Homo sapiens: one gene and its partners. The protein of the gene in region 1 interacts with the protein of each later gene in a biochemical or structural test. Each region holds a gene or a part of one and is shown in the gene's direction. Other genes may lie near its edges.

The links.
Region 2: the proteins of USP10 (region 1) and PRKAA2 form a complex in vitro, tested with the Homo sapiens proteins (one study listed by BioGRID).
Region 3: of the proteins of USP10 (region 1) and MAVS, one has a biochemical effect on the other in vitro, tested with the Homo sapiens proteins (one study listed by BioGRID).
Region 4: the proteins of USP10 (region 1) and SIRT6 form a complex in vitro, tested with the Homo sapiens proteins (one study listed by BioGRID).

What each region holds. Positions count from the first base shown.
Region 1 is NC_000016.10:84,695,576-84,702,999, forward strand, and holds the start of USP10 (ubiquitin carboxyl-terminal hydrolase 10), read left to right. Parts: upstream 1-4,424; 5' UTR 4,425-4,500; coding exon of another isoform or gene 4,501-4,515; coding exon 4,516-4,536; intron 4,537-7,424. UniProt on the Homo sapiens protein: Hydrolase that can remove conjugated ubiquitin from target proteins such as p53/TP53, RPS2/us5, RPS3/us3, RPS10/eS10, BECN1, SNX3 and CFTR.
Region 2 is NC_000001.11:56,648,306-56,655,332, forward strand, and holds part of PRKAA2 (5'-AMP-activated protein kinase catalytic subunit alpha-2), read left to right. Parts: intron 1-7,027. UniProt on the Homo sapiens protein: Catalytic subunit of AMP-activated protein kinase (AMPK), an energy sensor protein kinase that plays a key role in regulating cellular energy metabolism.
Region 3 is NC_000020.11:3,856,817-3,863,843, forward strand, and holds part of MAVS (mitochondrial antiviral-signaling protein), read left to right. Parts: intron 1-818; coding exon 819-993; intron 994-2,002; exon of another isoform or gene 2,003-2,126; intron 2,127-4,515; coding exon 4,516-4,688; intron 4,689-5,437; coding exon 5,438-5,597; intron 5,598-7,027.
Region 4 is NC_000019.10:4,173,595-4,179,576, reverse strand, and holds the end of SIRT6 (NAD-dependent protein deacylase sirtuin-6), read left to right. Parts: intron 1-290; coding exon 291-473; intron 474-2,438; coding exon 2,439-2,498; intron 2,499-3,639; coding exon 3,640-3,735; intron 3,736-3,816; coding exon 3,817-3,897; intron 3,898-4,425; coding exon 4,426-4,549; intron 4,550-4,630; coding exon 4,631-4,960; 3' UTR 4,961-5,468; downstream 5,469-5,982. UniProt on the Homo sapiens protein: NAD-dependent protein deacetylase, deacylase and mono-ADP-ribosyltransferase that plays an essential role in DNA damage repair, telomere maintenance, metabolic homeostasis, inflammation, tumorigenesis and aging.

The sequences.
Region 1 (7,424 bases):
AATCGTTTGAACCCTGGAGGCGGAGGTTGCAGCGAGCTGAGATCATGCCACTGTACTCCAGCCTGGGCGACAAAGTGAAATTCCGTCTCAAAAAAATAAAAAAATAAAAGCACCAGGCAGCACACTCCATGTGCTAGCTCCATTACTTCATCTCCTCCTAGCAACAGGCTTATAGAACAGGTAGTGTTGCTTCCCCTGTCATAGTTTCCTATTGTTGCTGGAACAAAATTTACCGGCTTAAATCAACACAAGTTTTTTGTTTTAAAGTTCTGTAGCTCAGAAGACTCACGGGGCTAAATCAAGCTGTAAGCAAGGCTATGTTCCTTCTGGCAGCACTAGCAGAAAATGTTTGCCCTTTTCCAGCTCCTAGAGGCCACCCACATTCCTTGGCTCGTGGCACCAGCAGCGCAGCATCTTCAAATCTCTCCCTCTCTCTTTCTGCTTCTATTTTCACATCTCCTTGTGACCTGACTCTCTTGCCCCTCCTTCTTTCCCTCATAAGGACCCTTGTGATTACTTGGGACCCACCAGTCATGTCATAATTAGGTTATTTCCCAGGATAATCCATCTCAAAGCCTTTAACATTACCACATTTGCAATGTTCCTTTTACCATGTAAAGTAATATATCCACAGGTTCTGAGGTTGGGGCATGGACATCTTTGAGGGGAGGGGCATTATTCTGCCCATCACACCACCTTCTACAAAAGATTCACAGAAAATGTAGGTAACTTGCCCAGGTTCACACAGCTAGTGAGTGGGGGATTCCAGATTTGAACTTGGGCCTGTCTTGACTCCAGGCCTAGGCCACTGTCCCCAGACTCATGGGAGATACCAGGTGTATTAGTCGGTTGTCATGCTGCTAATAAAGACATACATACCCAAGCTAGGTAATTTATAAAGCAAAGAGGTTTAATTGACTCACAGTTCCACATGGCAAGGGAGGCCTCACAATCATGGCGGAAGGCAAATGAGGAGCAAAGTCACGCTTAACATGGCGGCAGGCAAGAGAGCTTGTGCAGGGGAACTCTCATTTGTAAAACCATTAGAGGCTGGGCGTGGTGGCTCACGCCTGTATTCCCAGCACTTTGGGAGGCTGACGTGGGCAGATCACTTGAGGTCAGGAGTTCAAGACCAGCCTGGCCATCATGGTGAAACCCCATCTCTACTAAAAATACGAAAATTAGCCGGGCGTGGTGTCACATGCCTGTAGTCCCAGCTACTCCAGAAGCTGAGGCAGGAGAATCACTTGAACCCAGAAGGCGGAGGTTACGGTGAGCTGAGATCCTGCCACTGCACTCCAGCCTGGGCGACAGAGCAAGACTGTCTCAAAAACAAAAACAAAAACAAAAACAAAAAAACAACCAAACAAACCAAAAAAACCACACACACACACACACACACACACACACACACAAACATTAGATCTTGTGAGACTTACTCACTACCATGAGAACAGTATGGGGAAAACCACGCCAATGATTCAATTATCACCACGTGGCCCCACTCTTGACACGTGGGGATTATTACAATCCAAGATGAGATTTGGGTGGGGACACAGCCGAAGTATATCACCAGGCTCTGCTAAGCACTGAAGGCCATAGTGCTTGTTCATAGCTTCCTTTTAACATCTATTTCCTTGTACTGAAGGTATGTGTTCATATCTATGTGAATTATTTGAAAATGAAGACTGGGATCTTTTTTATTTATTTATTTATATATTTATTTATTTGTGAGACAAAGTCTCACTTTTGTCCCCCAGGCTGGAGTGAGATGGTGTGATCTCAGCTCACTGCAACCTCCGCCTCCCGGGTTCAAGCAATTTTCCTGCCTAGGCCCCCCAGGTAGCTGGGATTACAGGTGCCCGCCACCATGCCCAGCTAATTTTTGTATTTTTAGTAGAGACGGGGTTTCACCATGTTGGCCAGGCTAGTCTCGAACTTTTGACCTCAGGTGATCCACCCGCCTCAGCCTCCCAAAGTGCTGGGATTACAGGCGTGAGCCACCGTGCCTGGCCTGGGATCTTTTGTTTATTATCACTTTTATTTGTTGTTCAAGCAACTGTATGATAAAAATCAGACAAACAACTATATATATATATATATATATATATATATATATATATATATATATATGTTTTTTTTTTTTTTTTTTTTTGAGACAGAGTTTCACTCTTGTTGTCCAGGCTGGAGTGCAATGGTGCCATCTCGGCTCACTGCAACCTCTGCCTCCCGGGTTCAAGCGATTCTTCTGCCTCAGCCTCCTGAGTAGCTGGGATTACAGGCGCCTGCCACCACGCCCGACTAATTTTTGTATTTTTAGTAGAGACGGGGCTTCACCATGTTGATCAGGCTGGTCTTGAACTCCCGACCTCAGGTGATCCACCCACCTCAGCCTTCCAAAGTGCTGAGATTACAGGTGTGAGCCACCGCACCGAGCCAGAGAGACAACCATAAATCACTAGTGAGTTTTCACGTCCCCCAGTTTCTATCCAAGTGCAGATATCGCTTTTCCATGGTTAAAATTATAGCACAGACACTATATTGTATTGTTTTCCCCAATTTTTTGTTATAAAAATTTTCAAACATAGAGAAAAGCTGAAATATATAGCACTACTTAGAGCCAACAATAGTAAACATTTTGCCATATTTGCTGTCTCTCCCTGAATGTTTATGTGTGTACATGATTTTATCTTTTGTTGAACCATTAAACAATAGTTTACAGGCATTATGGCCTTCACTCCTCAACTCTTCAGAATGCATCTCCTCACAATAAGGACATTCTCTCAGTGAGCACAGTATAATTATTACACTATAAAATTACCAATAATTCACGAAGATCACCCATATCCAATCCATATTCAAATGTCTCCAATTGTCAACAAATAGTAAAACCAGCTTAAAAGACATATCAGGATCCAAGCAAGATGACACATTGTATTTGGTTATGTTTTCTAGCTCTTCTATTTTGGAACAACCCCTCCCTACCACTTATATTTTTCTTTTCTTTTCTTTCTTTCTTTCTTTCTTTTTTTTTTTTTGAGACAGAGACTCGCTCTGTCACCCAGGCTGGAGTGCAGTGGCACGATCTCGGCTCACCGCAACCTCCGTCTCCGGGGTTCAAGTGATCCTCCCACCTCAGCCTCCTGAGTAGCTGGGACGCCTGGTGTGCCACACTACATCCCACCAATTTTTGTATTTTTAGTAGAGTTGGGGTTTCATCATATTAGCCAGGCTGGTCTCCAACTCCTGACTTCAAGTGATCCGCCCGCCTCGGCCTCCCAATGTGTGGGATTCCGGGTGTGAGCCGCTGCGCCTGGCCCACTTATATTTTTCATGGCATCCCATTTATGAAGAGACCAGGCTCCCTATTTTATGTAACGTGGGAATGGATCTTCCTGTTCATCTCCTCTGCTCAGTGTACGGTCTAGCAAGAGCAGACTCTCTGTAGGTGTTTGTTGAATAAATGAAACCAATAGTAATGGTTATTAATAACAATCCCAGTAGCCAATTTTTATTGACTATTCTCTTGGCCAGTGTGCTCACGTTAATCTAATTTGAACCTCACAGAAATCTTACGCGTTATGACATATTTGTCTTATTCACAGGTGAGGAAACCAAGGCTTAGGGAAGGAAAGTCGCTTGTCTGAAATCACAGCTAGAAAAGGGGCCAAAACCCAAGGGTGGACCCACTGGCTGGAAAACAGTGCAGTTAGGCAGGGGCCCCTGTTTCTTAATAATGAATGAACCAACGACCCCCAAGGCTGGTTTGCCCGTGCACACGCACGCACGTGTGCAACACGTAGCACTTGCTGAGTGTTTGCTACTTGCCAGGCCTCATGTCAAGCACTTTACGCGTGCTTTTATGCCCTACGTTTTGTTTTTGTCTGTTTTGCTTTTTTCCCCTAATGCCTAGCCAAAGGCGTGGCCCAGGCGCCCAGGCAGGACTTGGGGAGTGAATGAAGAGTGAACAAATGAATGAATGCGCGGCAACGGGATCTTCATAAACCAGACCCTCCTCGGGGATCTAATGCGAACACTCCCGAGGCCCGGGCCCAGGTACGCTGAGGGCGGCTCGTGGGCCCCAGGCCGACCTCAGCCCGCGACTCCCGGGCTCCGGGGGCCCAGGTGGCCCCCAGTAGGTGAGGAGCCGGGCCCGCCGGCGCCTTGGCGTTGCCACCTCTACCTGCCTGCCCTCTCCCCTTCCGGATCCACAGCCAGGCCTCGGCGGGCTCCTGGTGTGCAGCCGCCCGGCCGCTTCCGCCCGAGGGTCGCGGGGCTCAGAGTCCGGCAGGCTCCAGGCGGGGCAGGGGATGTCCGCGGCCCGGCAGGCGCACGCCCACCTGTCGGCCGCGCAGGCGCAGCAGCGGGCCGGCCTCCCCGCGCCCCGCGGCGCGCGGCCAGTGCGCAGGCGCGGCGGCCGATGCGAGTGTGTATGTGCGGGCGAGAAGATGGCGGCGGCGGGGGAAGCAGCGTGAGCAGCCGGAGGATCGCGGAGTCCCAATGAAACGGGCAGCCATGGCCCTCCACAGCCCGCAGGTAGCCGCCGGTCTGCGCCTTCGGCCGGAAGGGGCCCGAGCCCCGGGCGGGCGGACGCCGCGGCGGGCGGGCGTCCGCGCCCTGCCCGGAGCGAGCGTGTGGGAGTGGGGGAGGGCGCTGGGACACGCTGCCCGGGCCTAGGCCGGAGCCACCCGCCGCCTCCGCGCCCGCCGCGCCTTCGTCCCCTGAGCCACCCGGACCCCCTAGTCCCGGGGAGGTCGAAGGGCGGGGGCTCCGGGCCCCGCTTGGGGAGGGCGTGGAGGGCGCCGAAGGGGTTAACCTCCCTGGGGCTGGACCGCGGGGCGAGCCCGGGGTGTGGAGTGGGGCCCTCCCCGCCGCGCCGGCCGGGGGAGGCGGCCCGGGGGCTCCGGGAGTCCCCTGGAGCGCAGGGGCCCCAGAGCAGCTCAGGTTGCTGCCTCTGCCTGGAGCGAGCCTCAGAGATTTGGGGGTGCCCTGTTGCCCCTTTGCCCCAAGAGCTTCCTTTCTCAGCTTGATTGATGATGCGGGGGTTGCCGATTTTCTGTTTTTTAGATAGAAGTAGCAGAGTAGCGGCCTTGGGCTGCTGTTGCAAAGAAAACTCGAAATAAGTCGCAAGGACCGTACTTTCACTTGCGTTTGAGTGACATCCCTTGCACGAATCCATCCCAGCCAGGCTGACAACTAACGCACCCTGCCTGAACAGTAGCTAAAGCTTGGGGGCCCTTTACAATAATCCCGTGGTGGAAAGAAAGAGCTCTTTTTGGGAGATGTGCGTGTAGAGTTAAGCTCTTATTCCCCTCTCCCACCCCTTCTCTCACATCTTCTCCCCCCTCCGCCATTATAATTATTCTGGACAAAAATCGGCATGATGTATTATTTGTCAGCCTTGCTTTAGACTGCTAATTTGTTGACATCTGGTCCCTATAAATTGTTGCACACTTTTAAACCATCTCATTGTGTATTTGTATTAAATATGGGGAAATGAAACAAAGTAGCCATTCGGGAAACTGATTGCGAGTAAAATCATAACCCTTCATGAGCAATTGGGTTTTGTTGCCCTTCTGCAGATGAAGTCAATCTGACTACACCTCTTTTGAAACATGATTTTCGGAACTATTGTAATGAATGCGTGTTGTGGAATCTAAAATGCGAAAACTTTTTAAAAAATTAGATCTTACGACAAGCTTCAATTTTGTTAAATTAGCTGTAGTTTAGTTTGCATCAGAATTTCCCCCTTTAACGTTTTGTTCCCTTATTCATTTACTTTTGTAAGTAGTGTAGGTCTTTGCGCCAAAAAAGGGATCAGTAGTTGAATAATTTTTACAAATGTATAGCCCAAAGATTTTAAGAGATTTGGTGTATTTAGCTTTGTTTAGACCTTTCTGTTAAAAAAAAAGATTTGATATTTGCTTTTTTCTCAACTTAAATCCTAATTAACTAGCTTATTAGAATTGGTATGAACAAGTAAAAGGCTCATTATGAATTAATGTGTAATATTCCTTGTGATTTTGACATGAAGAAAGCATCTTTAGGCATAGCTCACTTCCTTTATTTAATAAGCATCAATCACAATTCAAGGTTGATTGAAATGTTAATTAATGGGGATGGATAATATGTAAACTTAATTGTAATTTCGTTTGCATTCATTGTCCCAGTATTTACGTTTTATACAACAGTCTAAAGCGTTATACACATCTTTAGAAAATTGGAGTAGCAAAAGTTGGCGGAACGTAAATGTTAGCAACACTTTGGGTTTATTCTTTTAAAGTATGATTTAAATGCTTTTAAGTTTTAGCATGGAGAAAGTAGCAAAGGAAATAGTTTGATTTCTCATAATTTTCTTCTTCTTTTTTTTTTTTTTTTTGAGTTGGAATTTGGCTCTTGTTGCCCAGGCTGGAGTGCTGTGGTTATTAACCTATAAACTTTTTTATTTATTTTGAGATGGAGTTTCGCTCTTTTTTTTTTTTTTTTTTTTTTTTTTTTGAGACGGGAGTCTTGCTCTGTCGCCCAGGCTGGAGTGCAGTGGCATGATCTCGGCCCACTGCAACCTCTGCCTCCCGGGTTCAAGCGATTCTCCTGCCTCAGCCTCCCAAGTAGCTGGGATTACAGGCGCCCACCACCATGCCTGGCTAATTTTTTGTATTTTTATTAAAGACGGGTTTCACCATGTTGATCAGGCTGGTCTCAAACTCCTGAGCTCAGGTGATCCACCCGCCTCGGCCTCTCAAAGTGCTGGGATTATAGGCGTGAGCCACTACTGCGCCTGGCCGATTTCTCATAATTTTCATTTTAAAAGAATAGTAATGCAAACAAGTAATGGAATCATGTATGACAGGATTTAGTTACTGGTTCCTGCTCCAGTCATTCTGAGCGTTTTAATAAATTTGTTTTACTTGGTTGCCTACTGTCCTAAGAGTCTTGCAGCCTTAATGGCCATTCATTCATTCAGCAAATACTGATTGTTTATCAGATATTAAGCGTCATGGTATGTATATTACTTGTTTATGTTGGGAATAACAACTGCAAATTGAAGGTCTTATTTTAAAATTGACTTGTTAAAGTTAAATTTGTCACTGAGAATAATGGGAGGTGGAAAAAGTTACAGTTTAAAAATGTTTACAGGCCAGCGCGGTGGCTCGTGCCTGTAATCCCAGCACTTTGGGAGGCGCAGGTGGGTGGATCACTTGAGGTCAGGGGTTCGAGATCAGCCTGACCAATATAGTGAGACCCTGTCTCTACTAAAAATACAAAAATTAGCCGAGTGTGGTGAAGCTCGCCTGTAGTCCCAGGTACTTGGGAGGCTGAGGCAGGAGAATCGCTTGAACCCGGGAGGCGGAGGTTGCAGTGAGCCGAGATCATGCCACTGCACTCCAGCCTGGGCGACAGAGCAAGACTCCCGTCTCAAAAAA
Region 2 (7,027 bases), on another chromosome or scaffold:
TGATCGTTCAATATGTCATCTTTTGTGTCGAGCTTCTTTAACAATGCTTTTGAGATTCATGCATGACATAGCATGTGCCATTAATTTGTTCCTTTTTATAGTTGAATAATATTCCATTGTGTGGATATGCCACATTTTGTCTATACAAAACCAGTTGATGGTCATGGTTTCAAGTTTTGGGCTATTATAAATAATGGCACTACGAATATTCACATGTAAGTCTTTGTGTGGACATATGTTTTCATACACCTTGGGTAAATAACTAGAAGTAGAATTGCTGGGTCATATCGTAGTTTTATGTTTTACTTTTTGAGAAACTGCAACACTTTCCCAAAATGGTCACACCATTTTATAACATTCCCATCAAAGATGTATGAAAGTTCCCTTTTCTGAGTATCTTTGCCAACATTTGTTATTGTCTGCCTGATTTATTATAGCCATTCTAGTGGGTGCGAAATAGTATCTCATTGAGGCATTAATTTTGCGTTTCCCTAAGGACTAATGATGTTGAACATTGTCTCACGTAATTACTAGTCATTTATGTATTTTCATTGATGGAATGTCTGTTTATATCTCTTGCTTATTTTCTAATTGGGTTACTTGTCATCTTATAAGTTGAGTTGTGAGGATTCTTTGTAAATTGTGGATACAGATCCTTTAATGGATATATTTTGCAAATATTTTCTTCCAGTCTGTTGTGTCTTTTCATTTTCTTGTGTCTTTTGAAGTATAAAAGTTTTGAATTTTCATGAGGTCCAATTTATTAGTTTTTAAAATTATTTTATGGACTATGCTCTTGATGTCATAGGCAAGAAATCTTTGCCTAGCCCAAGTCTCAAAGATTTTCTTTTATGTTTTCTTGTAAATATTTTATTATTTTAGCCCTGATGTTTAACTATGTGATCTATTTTGAGTTAATTCTTATGTATGGTGTGAGATGAGGTTGTAAGGTTAACTTTTTCCATGTGGATAACCAATTGTCTCAGCAGTTTTTGTTGAATGCAGGTGCATTTTTAATTGTTGTAGATTTTAGACATTGCAAAATGAATTTCTACTAAAAAAGCTAATAGGAGATGATGTAATTTTAAAAGCTTGGCCAGGTGTGGTGGTCCATGCCTGTAATCCTAGCACTTTGGGTGACCAAGGCAGGAGGATCCCTTGAGCCCAGGGGTTCAAGACCAGCCTGGGCAGCATAGGGAGACCCTGTCTTTGATTGATTGATTGATTGATAGAAAGATAGATAGATAGATAGATAGTTAGATAAATGGTTATAAAAACATGGAAATGGAGAAGTAAGGAACATTTTATGTGCTTTCTCTCTTGACTTTTTTCCTTTTTCTTATTTGTTTATTAATTAGTTTTTTTTAGGGACTATGTTGACCAGGCTGTTCTCAAACTTGTGGCCTTAAGCAGTCTATCTGCCTCAGCCTCACAGTGTTGGGATTACAAATGTGTCCCACCATGCCCAACTTTGACTGTTATGCTAATTATAGATTTAGAAATTTTAGGCCAGGCACGGCGGCTCACGCCTGTAATCCCAGCACTTTGGGAGGCCGAGGTAGGTGGATCACTTGAGGTCAGGAGTTTGAGAACAACCTGGCTAACATGGTGAAACCTCATCTCTACTAAAAATACAAAAATTAGCCAGCTGTGATGGTGCGCGCCTGTAATCCCAGCTACTTGGGAAGCTGAGGCAGGAGAATCACTTGGACCCGGGAGGCGGAAGTTGCAGTGGGCCGAGATTGTGCCACTGCACTCCAGCCTGGGTGACAGAGCGAGACTCCGTCTTAAAAAAAAAAAGAAATAAAGAAATTTTAACTTCAGTTGTTGATATATCAATTTATGGACCAAAGTTAGGGACAAAAAGCAAAAATTGAAAATGGAATAGTTTTAACAGCAGTAGTTTTAATTTGTTTTTTAAAAGTATATGGAAATCTTTGTATTTGTTAATAAAGCCTTATTTAAAATGTTTTAAATTTTGTCCTTCATTAGTCTATTGTATTATCAGGTTGCTGAGGGACTGTTTTTGGAAACAGATTATATGGGCTGACAGAGTTTAAAAGTAATGCTTTTTATCTATTTAAAATTTTTCTCTATATTGACTGTTTAGGCTCTCACTCTGGGTAGGGTAAAACTGTTAGAGAGTTCTTGTAATTAGACTTGTTCATTTCTTATCTAACTTCTCTAAAGGTGATAGAAATTCTAGAAGAATGGTCCTGTTGTTTGTGTTATATAAAGACTGATTGAAGAAACAAAATTATAGTGCTAATTATTTATTTAAAAAGAAGCCTGCATTTTCAAGATGAGTAGTAGTATATATGTGGTTTATGATTTAAACAAATTTTTTTCAACATTTTACTCCAGAAATATGTTTACCCATATGTGGTTTATGAAATAAATATTCTTCATTGGAATTGTACACCAAGGGATACTTAGGTTCTTTCTTGTCGGCAAAGTCTCACGAAGAAGTTACCCTTTCCATTTTTCAAATAGTTACATGACTGGCCTACAGACTGCTTTCAATAAATTAAGTAAATATTTTACTAATTCCCCACTTGTTTTTGAGATAACAGGAAGGATAAACCAAAACTTAAACAAACAAACAAAAAGTGTTACCTTATTTTGAAATGTAAATATCAAGTCCTAAATGATAAATCAAATTTCACACAACTGTCCCATCAATTGATGGAGCTAAAAGTTATGTCTGTGGTATTTTGGTCCCTTGCTTGACTTGTGTGCTAGTGTGGAAGCCCTGAACAATTTAACTCCCTGGGCCTTGTTTTCTTCCCCTCCTAAAGGATAACACTGGAGTAGCGAATCTGTGAGGTCCTTTACAATGCTATCATTAAACCGATTTTTAAAAGATTTAACTCCAAAAAAATGGGTATATTTAATTATTCATCCTGGTTAATGAAAATTTGAGTTCCTGAGTCTGAAATGTAGATGTAATGTAGAACAGGGGAAAAGGAAACATATTTTCAATACTTCAGTGATAAAAGGTACAATTTGATTAAGTTGTTACTATATTCTAATCACTGTATGATATATGCACTTGATTTTTTTTTATTCCCAGAGTAATCCTCTAAGTTTGGTATTATCTCCATTTAACAAATGAAGAAATTGAGAATCAGATACTTTAAGTAACTTGTCCAAAGTTCCAGTGCTATTAAGTGGTAGAGCTAGCAATCAAATTCAGGGTTCTCAGACTGCAAAGTCTCTGCTCTATGGACTGTAAAGTCAAAATGCCTAGTATGTTCTGAGTTTCAAACCTACAAGGATATAATTTTCTATGTCTGCTCATATTTATCAGAATTGAGAAAATAAGATTTAAATGTCTTTCAGTCCATATTTAGAGATAAATAACGTTTTTTGAAATGCCATATATAGATGATTAAAATTTATATTTTTACTTTTCCAACATTTACTTGGATGCCTCAATCTTTCATTTCTTATTATAAAATGTGCTGAATTCTACCAGTTTTAACCCATGTTTATTAGAAATACTAGTGATTTCAGTGTGTTTACTGATATGAAAGTAATCTTTTTTTTTTTTTTGAGACTAGTCTGGCTCTGTCGCCCAGGCTGGAGTGCAGTGGTGCTATCTCAGCTCACTGCAAGCTCCGCCTCCTGGGTTCACGCCATTCTCTTGCCTCAGCCTCCCCAGTAGCTGAGACTACAGGCGCCTGCCACCACGCCTGGCTAATTTTTTTTTTTTTTTTTTTTTTGGAGACAGAATCTTGCTCTGTCACCAGTCTGGAGTGCAGTGGCGCGATCTCGGCTCACTACAACCTCTGCCTCCTGGGTTCAAGCGATTCCACTGCCTCGGCCTCCCGACTAGCTGGGACTACAGGCGTGCACCACCACGCCCTGCTAATTTTTTGTATTGTAGTAGAGATGGGGTTTCACCATGTTGGCCAGGATGGTCTCGATCTCCTGACCTCGTAATACGCCCGCCTCAGCTTCCCAAAGTGCTGGGAGTAAAGGCGTGAGCTATTGCGCCCGGCCTCACCCGGCTAATTTTCTGTATTTTTGGTAGAGACAGGGTTTCACCGTGTTAGCCAGGATGGTCTTGCTCTCTTGACCTTGTGATCCACCTGCCTCGGCCTCCCAAAGTGCTGGGATTACAGGCTATAAAGGTAATCTTGACTAGTGATTGCCAGTAACCTTTAGTAACCAGACTAAAGAGAACTTGTACAAATGATTTGATGTTCTAGAAGAAAACATTGGTATAAGAAGGTATTAGCTCTGGAATTAATTCCATTTCTACTACCAGTTGTCTCACCTTTGGGAAAAACCATTAGATGCTGAGCCTTTGTTTCCTCCTTCGTAATATGGCAATGATCATACTTGTCCTGCCTACCTTCTGGAATAGTTATGAAGATCAAATGAGTTGAGGTATATAAAATGGCTTTGGAAAAGATAAAATGCTATACAGATAGATGACACTTGTGGAGATGGTGAGATGCATGGCAATTGTAGGTAAATTCTGCACCCTGTGTTAGAAAGTACTTACTTTCCATTGAAATGCCTTCAGTTCTCACACCAACATTGAGATAGAGCTGTAGTAATCTGCCCCTATTTTGTGGTTGCCTAGGTTGAAGAAAGCTCTTAATGACTACTTTATCTGTGCTTTATGATACTTATTAATGTTTATATTAAAAACAATATCCTGTATGACTAAGTCATGTAATTTGCTTTTTCCCAAATATGGAAGATGAATGAAACAAGAATGAAATGGAAGTAATAGTTAAATAAAAGTGAATGTACACACATTCACAGTAAATTGATTTTACTTTTGAAATTATGCAAATTCTAAACAAGTGTTAAATATTGGTTCCAAATAATGAAATTATGTTTCTTCTCAAATACTAGATTAGTGATTGAATTAAAATCAGTTGAATTATTCTCACAATTAGGTAAATACGTGCTATTTAGGTTTCTCTTGCTGATATATATAGATATATATAATATATATATAATTTATATGATTTTTGAATTGTGTCCTTAATATCTGAATGGATTTTGTTCATTTGGTGTAGCCAGTTGATTGACTTTCAAAGGGTATTTTAAATAGGAAACAATGTTATAAATGGTAGCTATTTTCATAGTATGTCCACAAAGGCAGCCTGATGTAGTATAAATACTCTCTGTAGTATGTTGAACTTAGAAGACCTGGTGTGGAACCTTTGTTTTGTCATAAACCAGCTATGTGGTCAAACTCAATCTGTAAAAATGGGAATAATACCATATGTTCTCTTCTAGTGTTGTGAGAAGTACATGAGAAAATGTACATAGATGAAAAAGCACTCAGAAGTACTTATGTACTTTTGTGTATGTAGACACCATTATGTACTTAAACCCACAATTAGCTGAACTATGAGAATAATCTGTGATCTGGTTCTGAGACCAGAAATTTATTGATGAGAGAGAGGGAAGAATTCACTACCTCCTGTCTTGTTTTACTCTGGTCTTATTTCTGCAAATGAATGTGTTCAGAAACCTGTAATTCTCTAGAAGCTGCTCACTTTTCACCATCTTCTGTGCATCACTTGGAAGGCACAAACACATTATATATATTTTGTATACATACATATATATGTATGTATGTATTCCAGATCCCATGGTATCCATCATAGAAACTCTTGGAGGAAAGAGGCATAAGCTGGGAAGGGGGAAAGTGTGGGCAGCAGATGGCATTTAGTATGAATGGGTCATTTTAAAGTCCTGGTCCACTTGTAGTAGAACCAAAATGAGGCTATACATATATTTTCAGTTCAGATAATACACTCTGAGCTAAAAATGCTTTTCTACCAAACTTTATCTTAACATATCCATATAAATTAGAAAGGATTTTGTAGTTTGGTCATATATTGAGGTAATTACCTCAGTTCCATGAGCTTTCTCCCTTTTTCATGCTGACACAACCATGCTTTATCTTGCTTCTTTTTGTAAAAACATCCCAAAATGTCCACTTACCTTGTGGTCCATGTTAGCTTTCTTGAAAGCATTTGGTACTGCTTTGTAATAATAATACCACCCCATTTATTCTTCTGAGATTCCTGTGGTTTCCTAAATGATAGAGAAAATATTTTGTAGAGGAAGTATTAATAATTTTTGAAGCCAAGCAGATAATTTAATTTGACCTAGCAGGAAGATCTAATCTCAAATCCTTTAAGAAATAATGAGTAAGTGGCTGGCACAAGACCCTTAAAGCATTAAATATGTTATAAAAATGAGAGCAAATCTACCTAGTGTATTTATCAACTACAAATATAAGAGAAATGTAAACCTTAAATCAGGCTTTTATTTTTATCTGTTATTGAAGTGATTGAAATGCGTATGAAAAGCAATGTGTTTATTTTGAAATATGATGAACCTTTTTATTTTTAGTATGGTGTTATTAAGGAAAGAATTTCAGGCAGTTATCTCTGCTAATAATAGAAGCCTTCTTCACCCCTTCAAGGGAACAGTATTCTTGCTTAAGTGGTGTCTTATGTTTGGCAGTGTTTGCCTCTGATAAATTTTATGTATTTCTTTGGGTGGTACCTTTGTTTTTAAAATATTCATAATTCTCTTTTTAATCTGCCATTAGATCTTTTTAAACAGCCTTTTATATGATTAAAGATAATTTATAAAATCTTGCTATATGTCTCTTACTCTGAATGTTAGTATGTTATTAATATACTTTGTTTTTTCAGAATCATTTTTCTTCAGATTATATATACTATTAAAACAAGAACAGTGTGTTCTTATTCAACATCTCAGTTTCTAAATTATAAATGAATTATAAGGTAAGTTAAACTGACTGTCATAAAACAATAGATCTAACATTTTTAAATATACCATACTTTTTTTTTTCTAAATGCTTGTTTTACTTGGGCAATATGATAAGTATAAGTTATTTTCATTTTCTTTTTAAAAAAATCATTTTACTGTTTCTCACAATGTATGTATTTATATATCTATATATATATATTTTTTTTTTTTTTTTGTAGAGACAGGGTCTCACTGTATTGTTCAGGTAGTC
Region 3 (7,027 bases), on another chromosome or scaffold:
TGAGGTCAGGAGTTCGAGACCAGCCTGGCCAACATGGCGAAACCATGTCTCTACTAAAAATACAAAAAAATTAGCCGGGTGTGGTGGTGGGCTCCTGTAATCCCAGCTACTCGGGAGGCTGAGGCAGGAGAATCGCTTGAACTCAGGAGGCAGAGGTTGCAGTAAGCTGATATCACGGCACTGCACTCCAGCCTGGGCGACGGAGTGGGACTCCGTCTGAAAAAAAAAAAAAAAAAAGAAACAAAAAAACTCTGCAGCCACTGTCATCTGCCCACAATCTCCCCAGCATTCTCAGCTTCCTTGTTTGTTATTGTCGGCCCCCTCTCTTTCCGTCTTTTGCCCCTTTCATCATACTTTTGCTATCTACCTTTTCCTTCTCTCCTAATCCAAACCTTTCTTTTTGCCCTGGGGGCCATATTAATCCAAGGCTTTTGTATCAGATTAACTGGGTTTGGATTCCTGCCCCACTGTTTTAGGATCTTTGCTACAGTACTTTGCTTCTGCTAAGCCTCAGTTTCCTCATTAGTAAAGTGGAGATAATAATGGCATTAAATAAAGATGATACATGCAAAGCCCTTAATGGAGAGCCCAGGACATAGTTAATTGCCAGTTTCCGGCAGCTGCCTTTATTGATGTGGCTGCTAATTGCTCTTCCTCACTCCATACCTGGCCCTGTCCTGGGCTCCGATCCAGTTTCACGTGGCTGCCTTGCCCTTGTGGCTTTCTTGGCACCCCTCCCCCCGCTGTGGCTTCATTCTGGGTGGGGAAGTGGCAGGGGCCACCTGGCTTGAGCAGGACAGTGGCATTGTGTCTTCCAGGATCGACTGCGGGCCACCTGCACACTCTCAGGGAACCGGGACACCCTCTGGCATCTCTTCAATACCCTTCAGCGGCGGCCCGGCTGGGTGGAGTACTTCATTGCGGCACTGAGGGGCTGTGAGCTAGTTGATCTCGCGGACGAAGTGGCCTCTGTCTACCAGAGCTACCAGCCTCGTGAGCGTCCTGCCCTTGCCCTCCTGGACCCCCAGCCTGCTCCCTGGCCTCCGCTCTCCTTTTCTCTCTCCCTGTACTTCCTGCCTTTCTCTGTCATCCTCTTTCTTGTCACTGTGAAGCGATGAATAAACCTGGGTGTAGATCCAGGCTGAGCCACTTACCAGCTGTGTCCCTTTGGCCAAGTCCCTTAATTTCCCTGAGCCTCAGGCCTCTCTTCTGTAAAATGAAGCTCATGGCAGCATCTGCCGCGGGGAGCTGCAGTGGGTGATACTGCGGGACGATGCGTGTTGAGTATTGAGCTGGGCTGGGCACTTCCTGTATGCCCAGCACATGGAGTCTCCCCTAACTTTCACGGCTGTAGCATTCGCCTCCCACCCTTCCTCATTTCTTCTCCCCCACCTACTCATTCACCCTCCCTCTCTCCTCCTTCTCTTCCCCTCCCCTGGTTTACCCTGAGAGCCTTCGACGCCCTCTATCAGCTGCCCAGTTATTCTTTAAGTCCCTCTCAGTGTCCCTGCCACTCTGAGTGCTCGGAGGCGATTTGATGAGATTGAGTTTGATCCTGAGTGAGATCAAGACATGGGAGGAGGCTGGGCGCGGTGTTTCACACCTGTAATCCCAGCACTTTGGGAGGCCGAGGCAGGCGGATCATGAGGTCAGGAGATGGAGACCACCCTGGCTAAAACAGTGAAACCCCGTCTCTACTAAAAATACAGAAAATTAGCCGGGCATGTTGTCCCAGCTACTCAGGAGGCCGAGGCAGGAGAATCACTTGAACCAGGGAGGCAGAGGTTGCAGTGAGCTGAGATCGCGCCACTGCACTCCAGCCTGGGCGACAGAGTGGGATTCCATCTCAAAAAAAAAAAAAAAAAGACATGGGAAAAAAAATCAAGCCAGCCCTATTTATATTTCAAACTAGAGGTAACCCCCGAGACCCTGGTCACATTTATAGCTGTGGGACATCCATGTTTTTCTTTTCTTTCTCTCTCTTTTTTTTTTTTCCTTTTAGAGACAGAGTCTTGCTGCGCCACCCAGGCTGCAGTGCAGTGGTGCAATCATAGCTCACTGCAGCCTTGACCTCCTGGACTCAAGTGATCCTTCTACCTCAGCCTCCAGAGTAGCTGGGACTACAGGCATGGACAACTACACCTGGCTAATTTTTAAATTTTTTGTAGAGATGACATCTCACTATGTTGCCCAGGCTGGTCTCAAACTCCTGGGCTGAAGCGATCGGCCTCCCAGAGTGCTGGGATCATAGGTGTGAGCCACCGCGTCTGGCTCTCATGCTTGCTTTTCTCTCCTTTTTCCCTTCCTTGCTTTTCCTCCCTCCCTCCCTCCCTTCCTCTCTTCCTTCCTTTTTTTCCTTCCTTCTTTTTAAATATGTCTCTTCATGTGTGGAGATTAATAGTGATCCCTGGCTGGGCACGGTGGCTCACGCCTGTAATCCCAGCACTTTGGGAGGCCGAGGCGGGCGGATCACAAGGTCAGGAGTTCGAGACCAGCCTGGCCAATATGGTGAAACCCTGTCTGTACCAAAAATACAAAAAAATTAGCTGCGCATGGTGGTGCAAGCCTGTAATCCCAGCTACTTGGGAGGCTGAGGCAGGAGAATTGCTTGAACCGGGGAGGTGGAGGTTGCAGTGAGCCGAGATTGCGCCACTGCACTCCAGCCTGGATGACAGAGTGAGACTCCGTCTCCAAAAAAAAAAAACCCAAAAATAGTGATCCCCTGAATACAATGGCTGTGGTAGGGCCTGATGAGGGGTGGGGGCAAAGGGGAGGGGCTCAGGTGGCAGCATCAGGGCAGGGGTCAGTGAGCAATGATAGTCATGTGGAGGAGAAAGCCACTGGGTCCTAGGATGCCTGGGGACAGAGAAGAGTGACTGCTGACACGGCGTGGGTGACTAGAGACCCACGAGGCCCCCCCATACTCCCCTTCCTCCCTTGCTACCTTGTCCTCCATCTGCTCTCACCCTCCCACTCCTGCCCCCTTGCCAAGTGATGCTTGTCACTCCTTTTTTTTTTGAAATGGAGTTTCGCTCTGTCGCCCAGGCTGGAGTGCAGTGGTGCCATCTCAGCTCACTGCAAGCTCCGCCTCCCGGGTTCACGCCATTCTCCTGCCTCAGCCTCCCGAGTAGCTGGGACTACAGGCGCCTGCAACCATGCCCGGCTAACTTTTTGTATTTTTTAGTAGAGATGGGGTTTCACCGTGTTAGCCAGGATGGTCTCGATCTCCTGACCTCGTGATCCACCCGCCTCGGCCTCCCAAAGTGCTGGGATTACAGGCGTGAGCCACCAAGCCCAGCCCTGCTTGTCACTCTTGAGGAGTGGGCCCACATCAGAACAGCTTTTGGACCTATGGGTGGGGCGGGGGGTGTACCCAAGAGCACCCAAGCCTCTTTAATCATGAGGAGAACCCCCAATTCCTTTTTTTTTGAGACAGAGTCTTGCTCAGTCGCCCAGGCTGGAGTGCAGTGGCATGACTTCGGCTCACCACAACCTCTGCCTCCCGGGTTCAAGTGGTTCTCCTTCCTCAGCCTCCCTATAGTCCCTGATTCCTTCTATTTTTTTTTTTTTTTTTTGAGACGGAGTCTCGCTCTTGTTGCCCAGGCTGGAGTGCAATGGTGCAATCTCAGGTCATGGCAACCTTCACTTCCCAGGTTCAAGCAATTCTCCTGCCTCAGCCTCTCGAGTAGCTGGGATTACAGGCATGCGCCTCCACGCCTGGCTAATTTTGTTATTTTTAGTAGAGACAGGGTTTCTCCATGTTGGTCAGGCTGGTCTCGAACTCACGACCTCAGGTGATCCACCCACTTCGGCCTCCCAAAGTGCTGGGATTACAGGCGTGAGCCACCACGTCTGGCTTCTTTTTCTTTTTTTCCCCCGAGACGGAGTCTTGCTCTGTTGCCCAGGCTGGAGTGCAGTGGCGCGATCTCAGCTCACTGCAACCTCCGTCTCCCAGGTTCAAGCAATTCTTCTGCCTCAGCCTCCTGAGTAGCTGGGATTACAGGTGCTTGCCAGCACGCCTGGCTAATTTTTGTATTTTTAGTAGAGACGGGGTTTCACTATGTTGGCCAGGCTGGTCTTGAACTCCTGACCTCCTAATCCACCTGCCTTGGCCTCCCCAAATCCTGGGATTACAGGCATGAGCCATCGTGCCCAGCCCCTGATTCCTTCTTTTTTTTTCTTTCTTTTTTTTTTTAGACGGAGTCTCGCTCTGTCGCCCAGGCTGGAGTGCAGTGGCGCGATCTTGGCTTACTGCAAGCTCCGCCTCCCGGGTTCACGCCATTCTCCTGCCTCAGCCTCCTGAGTAGCTGGGACTACAGGGGCCCGCCACCATGCCCGGCTAATAATAATGTTGTATTTTTAGTAGAGATGGGGTTTCACTGTGTTAGCCAGGGTGGTCTCGATCTGACCTCGTGATCTGCCTGCCTTGGCCTCCCAAAGTGCTGAGATTACAGGCATGAGCCACTGTGCCCAGCCCTGATTCCTTCTTGATATCACTACATCTTTGTCCTCTAGGGACCTCGGACCGTCCCCCAGACCCACTGGAGCCACCGTCACTTCCTGCTGAGAGGCCAGGGCCCCCCACACCTGCTGCGGCCCACAGCATCCCCTACAACAGCTGCAGAGAGAAGGAGCCAAGTTACCCCATGCCTGTCCAGGAGACCCAGGCGCCAGAGTCCCCAGGAGAGGTCTGTCCTCATAGTCTACCTTGAGCCACCACTTTTGTGTTCCTATCTGCCCACTTCTGCCCATTGAGCCTTCCAGAAACCCTCTCCCGTCCCCTATAAATCACGCCTAATCTCTGCTCAGAACCCTAGGGCTTCCTCAGTGGGGATCTGCCCCAGACCAGCTTCCAGGCTGCTGACCAGGTCTTCACCCTGTGGCAGCCCTAATCCTCTGTCAGCAACCAGCTGGGAGACCACAGTTTTGTGTGTGTGTGTGTGTGTGTGTGTGACAGTGTCTCATTCTGTCACCCAGGCTGGAGTGCAGTGGAGTGATCTTGGCTCACTGCAACCTCTGCCTCCTGGGTTCAGGTCATTCTCCTGCCTCAGCCTCCTGAGTAGCTGGGATTACAGGCACCCACCACCACGCCCAGCTAATTTTTGTATTTTTAGTAGAGATGGGGTTTTGCCGTGTCAGCCAGGCTGGTCTCGAACTCCTGACCTCAGGTGATCTGCCCACCTTTGCCTCCCAAAGTGCTGGGATTACAGGCGTGAGCCACCGCACCTGGCAATGCTGTGTGTTTTCTGTGAGGTAGACGTAAGGACACCTGTGGACAGAGGGTCTGGGAATTACCAGAACCCAGGCAAGGGCTCCCCTGGCTCCTGTGCTCCATGGTGTGGGCTGAGGCCTATAGGAGATGCCCCAAGAGCACAAGCTGCCCTTTGTGAGCTCTTGGGAGAGGCAACTGCCTTATTCATATTTTCCCTCATTGCAGAATTCAGAGCAAGCCCTGCAGACGCTCAGCCCCAGAGCCATCCCAAGGAATCCAGATGGTGGCCCCCTGGAGTCCTCCTCTGACCTGGCAGCCCTCAGCCCTCTGACCTCCAGCGGGCATCAGGAGCAGGACACAGAACTGGGCAGTACCCACACAGCAGGTATGCATGGAATCTGGAATTATAGGGTCCTTCTGATCTCTCAAGTGAGGGTAAGAATTAGAGTTGCCCCATCTGGCTTCCTTGAACAGGAGACAAGGTGGGAATAAAGGGAGTTCAACCCAGGAAGCAAACCAGTTCCTTAGTGGGTGTATCAGTTAGCATTTGCTGTGTAACAAATAGTCCACTCCAGTTTTCCAAATTTTTTTTTTAGTAGCTTAAAATACAGCCATTTATTTAGCATATGATCCTGTGGGTCAGGCATTTGGGCTACCTACATGGGCATTTCTTCTGGTCTTGGCTGAATTTCCTCTCAAGTACTCACCGGTATATACATAAGTTCTGCCTCTGGCTGTTTGCTGAGCACCTTGGTTCTCTTCTATGTAGTCTCTCATCCTCCAGCACACAAACCCATCATGGCAGCTGGGCAGAGTTCTCAGAGAGGGCTCAAAACTGGCACAGTGTCCCCTGTGCTCCATTCTGTGGGCAAAAGCAAGTTATAAGGCCAGCCTAGATTCAAGGAGTAGGGAAATAGACTCCCTCCCTAGACGGGAGGACTGACAGGCACAGTGCAGTGGGGCTGGGTGGAGATGAGCGAGATAAGTAGGGCCATTTTTGCGCTCTGCCAAAGGGACTGTAGGGAACAGCCAGGGCCTATAGGGCAGTGGGAGAGGGACAGTGAAGGGCTGCATCAGCTGTTGGCAGGGGAACCTTTAGGCACTGTCTTACCGCAGAGATCTCCAGTTCCCAGTGAATCATGAAAACTTCTCAGTCCCCAGAGGAAGTAAGGTCTTCATCATCCAGTGGCCTGGACTCAACTCCAGATGTCAGTGCTCCCCCTCAGAAATATATAGTTGTCCATCTGGACCTCTCAGGCCAGCATGTCTCTTTCCTACTTCCCAAACTATTCCACATGACGCTGGTGCCCAGTCAGCCCTCAGTGCCCTGGGACAGCCACAAGACACATGAGCAGTTAGAGGCTGGGAGACGTCATCTTAGTACTTTTGTCATCCCCAAACTGCTCCAAGCACCTGTCTGCTTTGCAGTGTCACCTGGCCACGGGATGCCTTTCAGGAGTTGCTGTAGACCACAGAGGCAGAGGGCGCTTAGGTTTCAGTACGTTTGTAGACACAGGTCCCATGAGATTCTGTGGTATTAGATTGTGGTGGGGGAGCTGTACATCAGAATCACCCTGACTTTTGCCAGCTGTGGGGCTTGGCATGTGCATTCCGAGTTCCGTGGAGAGTCCTGCTGCAACTGCCTTTACAGACCATCACCACCTGCTATCCTCTGCTTCCCCCACCCAGGTCAGGCAGCCTCCCAGGGGTGGCTTTGTCCTTGTCCCCTCTCTTCCCAAGCCTCCGGGATGGCCAGGCCTCTCGGCTGGTGTGAGCTGTTCTGCATGAGCCATCCTGCCACCCCTTGCCCTGATC
Region 4 (5,982 bases), on another chromosome or scaffold:
ATCTCTCTCTCTCTGCCTCTCCCTCTCTCTGTCTCTCTCCAATTCTGTCTCTGACTTGCTTTGTCTTTAACTCTTTATCTCTCTGTCTGTGTCTTGTTCTATCCCCCTCTCCCTGTTCTTGCAACTCACCCTCTATTTCTGTTTCTGATTCCCTCTCTCTGTCTCCCTGTCTCTCTCTGTCTCCTGATTTTCTCTCTCTCCAACTTTCTCTCTATACCTCTCTGATTCTCCCTCTGTCTCTTTTTCTGTTCCCCTCTCCCCGTCCATCTCTCCCGGCCTGCCACCTTCAGGGGTCCCCACGGAGTCTGGACCATGGAGGAGCGAGGTCTGGCCCCCAAGTTCGACACCACCTTTGAGAGCGCGCGGCCCACGCAGACCCACATGGCGCTGGTGCAGCTGGAGCGCGTGGGCCTCCTCCGCTTCCTGGTCAGCCAGAACGTGGACGGGCTCCATGTGCGCTCAGGCTTCCCCAGGTAACACCCTGGCCCCGCCCCCACAAAAGAGCTTGGGGCCCCACAAACCGTGTTTGCATTTTTAGGGGGAGAGTCCCCTTTTCCTGGTTCTATAAGATTCTAGCCCTGAGTTCTTGGCCCAGTGTGTGGAGATCTCTGAGTCCCATGGCTCAGAGCTGTCCCGGCTGAGGCCAGAGGCAGAATTTCCCTCGAGATGGGGCTAAGGGGAGGAGAGCTGTCAGGGTCTAGAAGTTGCAGTTTGTTTTTTGTTGTTGTTGTTGTTTTTGAGACCGAGTTTCGTTCTTGTTGCCCAGGCTGGAGTGCAATGGCGTGATCTCCGCTCAGCCTCCCAGGTTCAAGCGATTCTCCTGCCTCAGCCTCCCTAGTAACTGGGATTACAGGCATGCGCCATCACACCCAGCTAATTTTGTATTTTTAGTAGAGACGGGGTTTCTCCATGTTGGCCAGGCTGGTCTTGAACTCCTGACCTCAGGTGATCTGCCCGCCTCAGCCTCCCAAAGTGCTGGGGTTACAGGTGTGAGCCACCACGCTTGGCCTGTTGTGTTTTTAATATCCATCTTTATTAATCTGACACTAAACGTGTCTGACACTGAAGTGAACCTGTGCTCTGGGGCAGGCTGATTTCCCAATAAAAGTGTGGCCCTCCCCTGCCCCTCTTTGCCAGGTCTCACCCCTGGGGCAACCAATGACAGCCAGGTCAGTTGTTGAGACGAGGAGCTCGGCAGCCAGGGGTGAGGGGTGAGGAAGAGATTTTTCTCTGCTTATAAAAGCAAACGAGGGGCCGGGCATGGTGGCTCACATCTGTAATCCCAGCACTTTGGGAGGCCGAGGCAGGCGGATCACGAGGTCAAGAGTTCGAGACCAGCCTGGCCAACATGTTGAAACCCCATCTCTACTAAGAGTACAAAAATTAGCTGGGCGTGGTGGCGCATGCCTGTAATCCCAGCTACTCGGGAGGCTGAGTCAGGAGAATCGCTTGAACCCGGGAGGCAGAGGTTGCAGTGAGCCGAGATGGCGCCACTGCACTCCAGCTTGGGTGACAGAGCAAGACTCTGTCTTGAAAAAAAAAAAAGCAAAGGAGGGTCAGGTGTGGTGACTTATGCCTGGAATCTCAGCACTTTGGGAGGCCAAGGCGGGCGGATCATGAGGTCAGGAGATCGAGACCATCCCGGCCACATGGTAAAACCCCGTCTCTACTAAAAACAGAAAAATTAGGCTGGGTACAGTGGCTCACGCCTGTAATCCCGGCACTTTGGGAGGCCGAGGCGGGTGGATCACAAGCTCAGGAGATCGAGACCATCCTGGCTAACACGGTGAAACCCTGTCTCTACTAAAAATACAAAAAATTAGCCCGGCGTGGTGGCGGGCGCCTGTAGTCCCAGCTACTCAGGAGGCTGAGGCAGGAGAATCACTTGAACCCCGGAGGCAGAGGTTGTGGTGAGCTGAGATTGTGCCATTGAGGTTGTGGTGAGCTGAGATTGCACCATTGCACTCCAACCTGGGCAACAAGAGCAAAACTCTGTCTCAAAATAAATAAATAAATAAAATAAAGCTGGGATTGGATCTCATGCTTCAGGGCCATTCAATGTCTCGGTTTCTTCCATTATAAACTGGGAATTTGAATTCCTGTGCTTCTGACCTGGTGACATCAAGAGGTTCCCATATGCTCTCGGAGGGGGACGGGCATTTTGTGAGTGGAAAGGGCTTCCCGTTATCTAAGGTGGGTTCAGCCTTGGGGGTTAATGATTCCTTGGGCTCAGAGAGGTTGGTCCACTTGCCCAGAGATGCACAGCAGATGAATGGTGGAGCCAGGAGCTAGAAGAGCCAGAAAGAAGGAGTTGATCAATGTTGTGGGAGAGGAGTCCGGGAAGCCTTCCTGGAGGAGAGGGGCTTAGCACCAGCTCCAAAGCCTGGGCATCCAGGGATCCTTTCCCACCATCAAGCCTCTTCCTGCTCTTCCCACAGGGACAAACTGGCAGAGCTCCACGGGAACATGTTTGTGGAAGAATGTGCCAAGTGTAAGACGTGAGTGCCACCTGGGTGCAGGGGTGGGGGCTCTGCCAGAGGGGGTTGGGGGTCGAATCCGATGTCCCAGAGACCCAGAGGGTATGGGGGGACTGGGGTGTGGCCCTCCTGGGGGGATCTGGGGGCGTGTCTCCCTCTTGGGGGGATATAAGGAGTATGTCTCCCTCCTGGAGGGATTTGGGGGGCATGTCTTCCTCCTGGAGGGATTTGGGGGGGCCGTGCCTCCCTCCTGTGGGGGGTACATCCGTGTCCTGGCACTGCTGTAGCAACCTGCCACAGATGAGCAGCGTAGAACAATAGAAATTTGTGATCTCACAGTTCTGGGGACCAGAAGTCCAAAATCCAGGTGTCTGCAGGGCCATGCCCCTCTGCAACCTGTAGGGGAGGATTTTTCCTGCCTTTTCCTGGCTGCTGGTGGCAGCCAGCCACCCTTGGTGGTCCTGGACCTACAGCCACAGGGGCCTTCTTATCTCTGTGTTTCTCCTTTTTTTTGAGACAGTCCCGCTCTGTCATCCAGGCTGGAGTACAGTGGGGCAATCTCGGCTCACTGCAACCTCCGCCTCCCGGGTTCAGGCAATTATTCTGCCTCAGCCATCCAAGTAGCTGCAACTGCAGGCGCCCGCCACCACACCTGGCTAATATTTGTATTTTTAGTAGAGACGGGGTTTCACCATATTGGCCAGGCTGGTGTCGAACTCCTGACCTTGTGATCTGCCCGCCTCAGCCTCCCAAAGTGCTGGGATGACAGGCGTGAGCCACCACGCCCGGCCCAGTATAACGATTAAAGTCAGGAAAAGTAAAGTGGACATCGCCTTCTCTAATCCCGAATCCAGACTCGGCCTGTCGCCCCCATGCTCCAATTGTTCCTGTTTCTCCTGGTCCGGGATCCCATGCTGGGTCTTGTCTCTCGAGCCCCTTCGTCTGTCTGGGACAGTTTCCTGCTTTGTTTTCTGTGCTCCGGGCACCGAGCAGCATCCCAGCCCGTTATTCATGGAAGGCTACTCGTTCCGTGTCGCTGGGTGCTAGTTCTGGTCACCTGTCCACCCCCCACCTCCCTGGGAGAACGTCACCCTAGAAACAGTGCGAGAGTCACCCATGGGAGCTCACCTGGTCCCATCCTCCCCCTTCCTCCCTGACACAGGCAGTACGTCCGAGACACAGTCGTGGGCACCATGGGCCTGAAGGCCACGGGCCGGCTCTGCACCGTGGCTAAGGCAAGGGGGCTGCGAGCCTGCAGGTGAGCCACCCCCACCCATGCCCTGGGCTCCAGGGGAGGCTGCGAGGCCCCTGAGGACTCTCCTCAGCTTCCTCATTGCAGGGGAGAGCTGAGGGACACCATCCTAGACTGGGAGGACTCCCTGCCCGACCGGGACCTGGCACTCGCCGATGAGGCCAGCAGGTCTGACCCCCCACCCCCAGGGAGCCCATGGTGGGGCGGGGCGGGACGACAGCAGAAACACAGCCAGCTCCAGCATGGGACAGTGGCTGAGGCTCACAGGCAGTGAGGGGAGGCTTCCTGGAGCAGGTGGGCCAGGCCAGGGGCTGCACACACGCACTCACACACACTCGTCACCTCATGGCTCTGGGTGGGTGCTACACAAGGAAACCAAGGCTTCCGCCAGGTGTCTCCTCTATCCAGTGCTGCCCAGCCGGGAGGTGACCGAGCCAGGGTCCCACCCTAGGTGTCCAAGCTCTTACCACACTGTGATACTCCCCGGAAGTGTCTAAGGGCCCGCCCAGATCAATGACCCCGCCAACGGACCGCAGAGGAGGGCAGGGCGGGATCCCAAAGGCTGACTCGGGAGTGGGGCTGGCCTTGACCGCCCCGGTGAGCACAGATGGCCTAGGTGTGAACCGGCCCCCAGGGCTGGCTCGGGATGTTGGCAGGAGCAGGGCATCAGGCTCAGCCCACGCTCCCCGGCCCCAGGAACGCCGACCTGTCCATCACGCTGGGTACATCGCTGCAGATCCGGCCCAGCGGGAACCTGCCGCTGGCTACCAAGCGCCGGGGAGGCCGCCTGGTCATCGTCAACCTGCAGCCCACCAAGCACGTAGGTGTCTGAGCCTACCCCTGCCCAGGGCCACCATGCACCCTCTGTCCCCCACGCCTGACCCGTCCCGCCCCTCGGCAGGACCGCCATGCTGACCTCCGCATCCATGGCTACGTTGACGAGGTCATGACCCGGCTCATGAAGCACCTGGGGCTGGAGATCCCCGCCTGGGACGGCCCCCGTGTGCTGGAGAGGGCGCTGCCACCCCTGCCCCGCCCGCCCACCCCCAAGCTGGAGCCCAAGGAGGAATCTCCCACCCGGATCAACGGCTCTATCCCCGCCGGCCCCAAGCAGGAGCCCTGCGCCCAGCACAACGGCTCAGAGCCCGCCAGCCCCAAACGGGAGCGGCCCACCAGCCCTGCCCCCCACAGACCCCCCAAAAGGGTGAAGGCCAAGGCGGTCCCCAGCTGACCAGGGTGCTTGGGGAGGGTGGGGCTTTTTGTAGAAACTGTGGATTCTTTTTCTCTCGTGGTCTCACTTTGTTACTTGTTTCTGTCCCCGGGAGCCTCAGGGCTCTGAGAGCTGTGCTCCAGGCCAGGGGTTACACCTGCCCTCCGTGGTCCCTCCCTGGGCTCCAGGGGCCTCTGGTGCGGTTCCGGGAAGAAGCCACACCCCAGAGGTGACAGGTGAGCCCCTGCCACACCCCAGCCTCTGACTTGCTGTGTTGTCCAGAGGTGAGGCTGGGCCCTCCCTGGTCTCCAGCTTAAACAGGAGTGAACTCCCTCTGTCCCCAGGGCCTCCCTTCTGGGCCCCCTACAGCCCACCCTACCCCTCCTCCATGGGCCCTGCAGGAGGGGAGACCCACCTTGAAGTGGGGGATCAGTAGAGGCTTGCACTGCCTTTGGGGCTGGAGGGAGACGTGGGTCCACCAGGCTTCTGGAAAAGTCCTCAATGCAATAAAAACAATTTCTTTCTTGCATCTCAGTGTGTTTACTTTATTTTATTGAGCCAGAGTCTCACTCTGTCACCAAGGCTGGAATGCAGTGGCGTGATCTCAGCTCACTGCAGCCTCTGCCTCCTAGGTTCAAGCAATTCTCCTGCCTCAGCCTCCAGAGTAGCTGGGATTATAGGTGTGTGCCACCACACCCAGCTAATTGTTTGCATTTTTTGTAGAGATGGGGGTCTCACTATGTGACTCAGGCTGGTCTCAAACTCCTGGGCTCAAGCAGTCAGGCCACCTTGGCCTCCCAAAGTGCTGGACTTAACGGGCGTGAGCCACTGTGCCCAGTGAGTGTTTAAATTCCCTATTTGTGGCAGGTCCTCGCCCCCCTGGGTCAGGAGTTCGTGGTCCCCTCCTCCCTGGACCAGCTGCTTGGGCTCCGTTGCAATCCCTGCCCCTCAAGCCTGGGGGCCGAGGAACAAGGGCTCACCTCTCCCCCCACCCCGCCTCTGGAGGGATCAGGCCAGTTTTCTGATGATGAAGCCAATAAGGC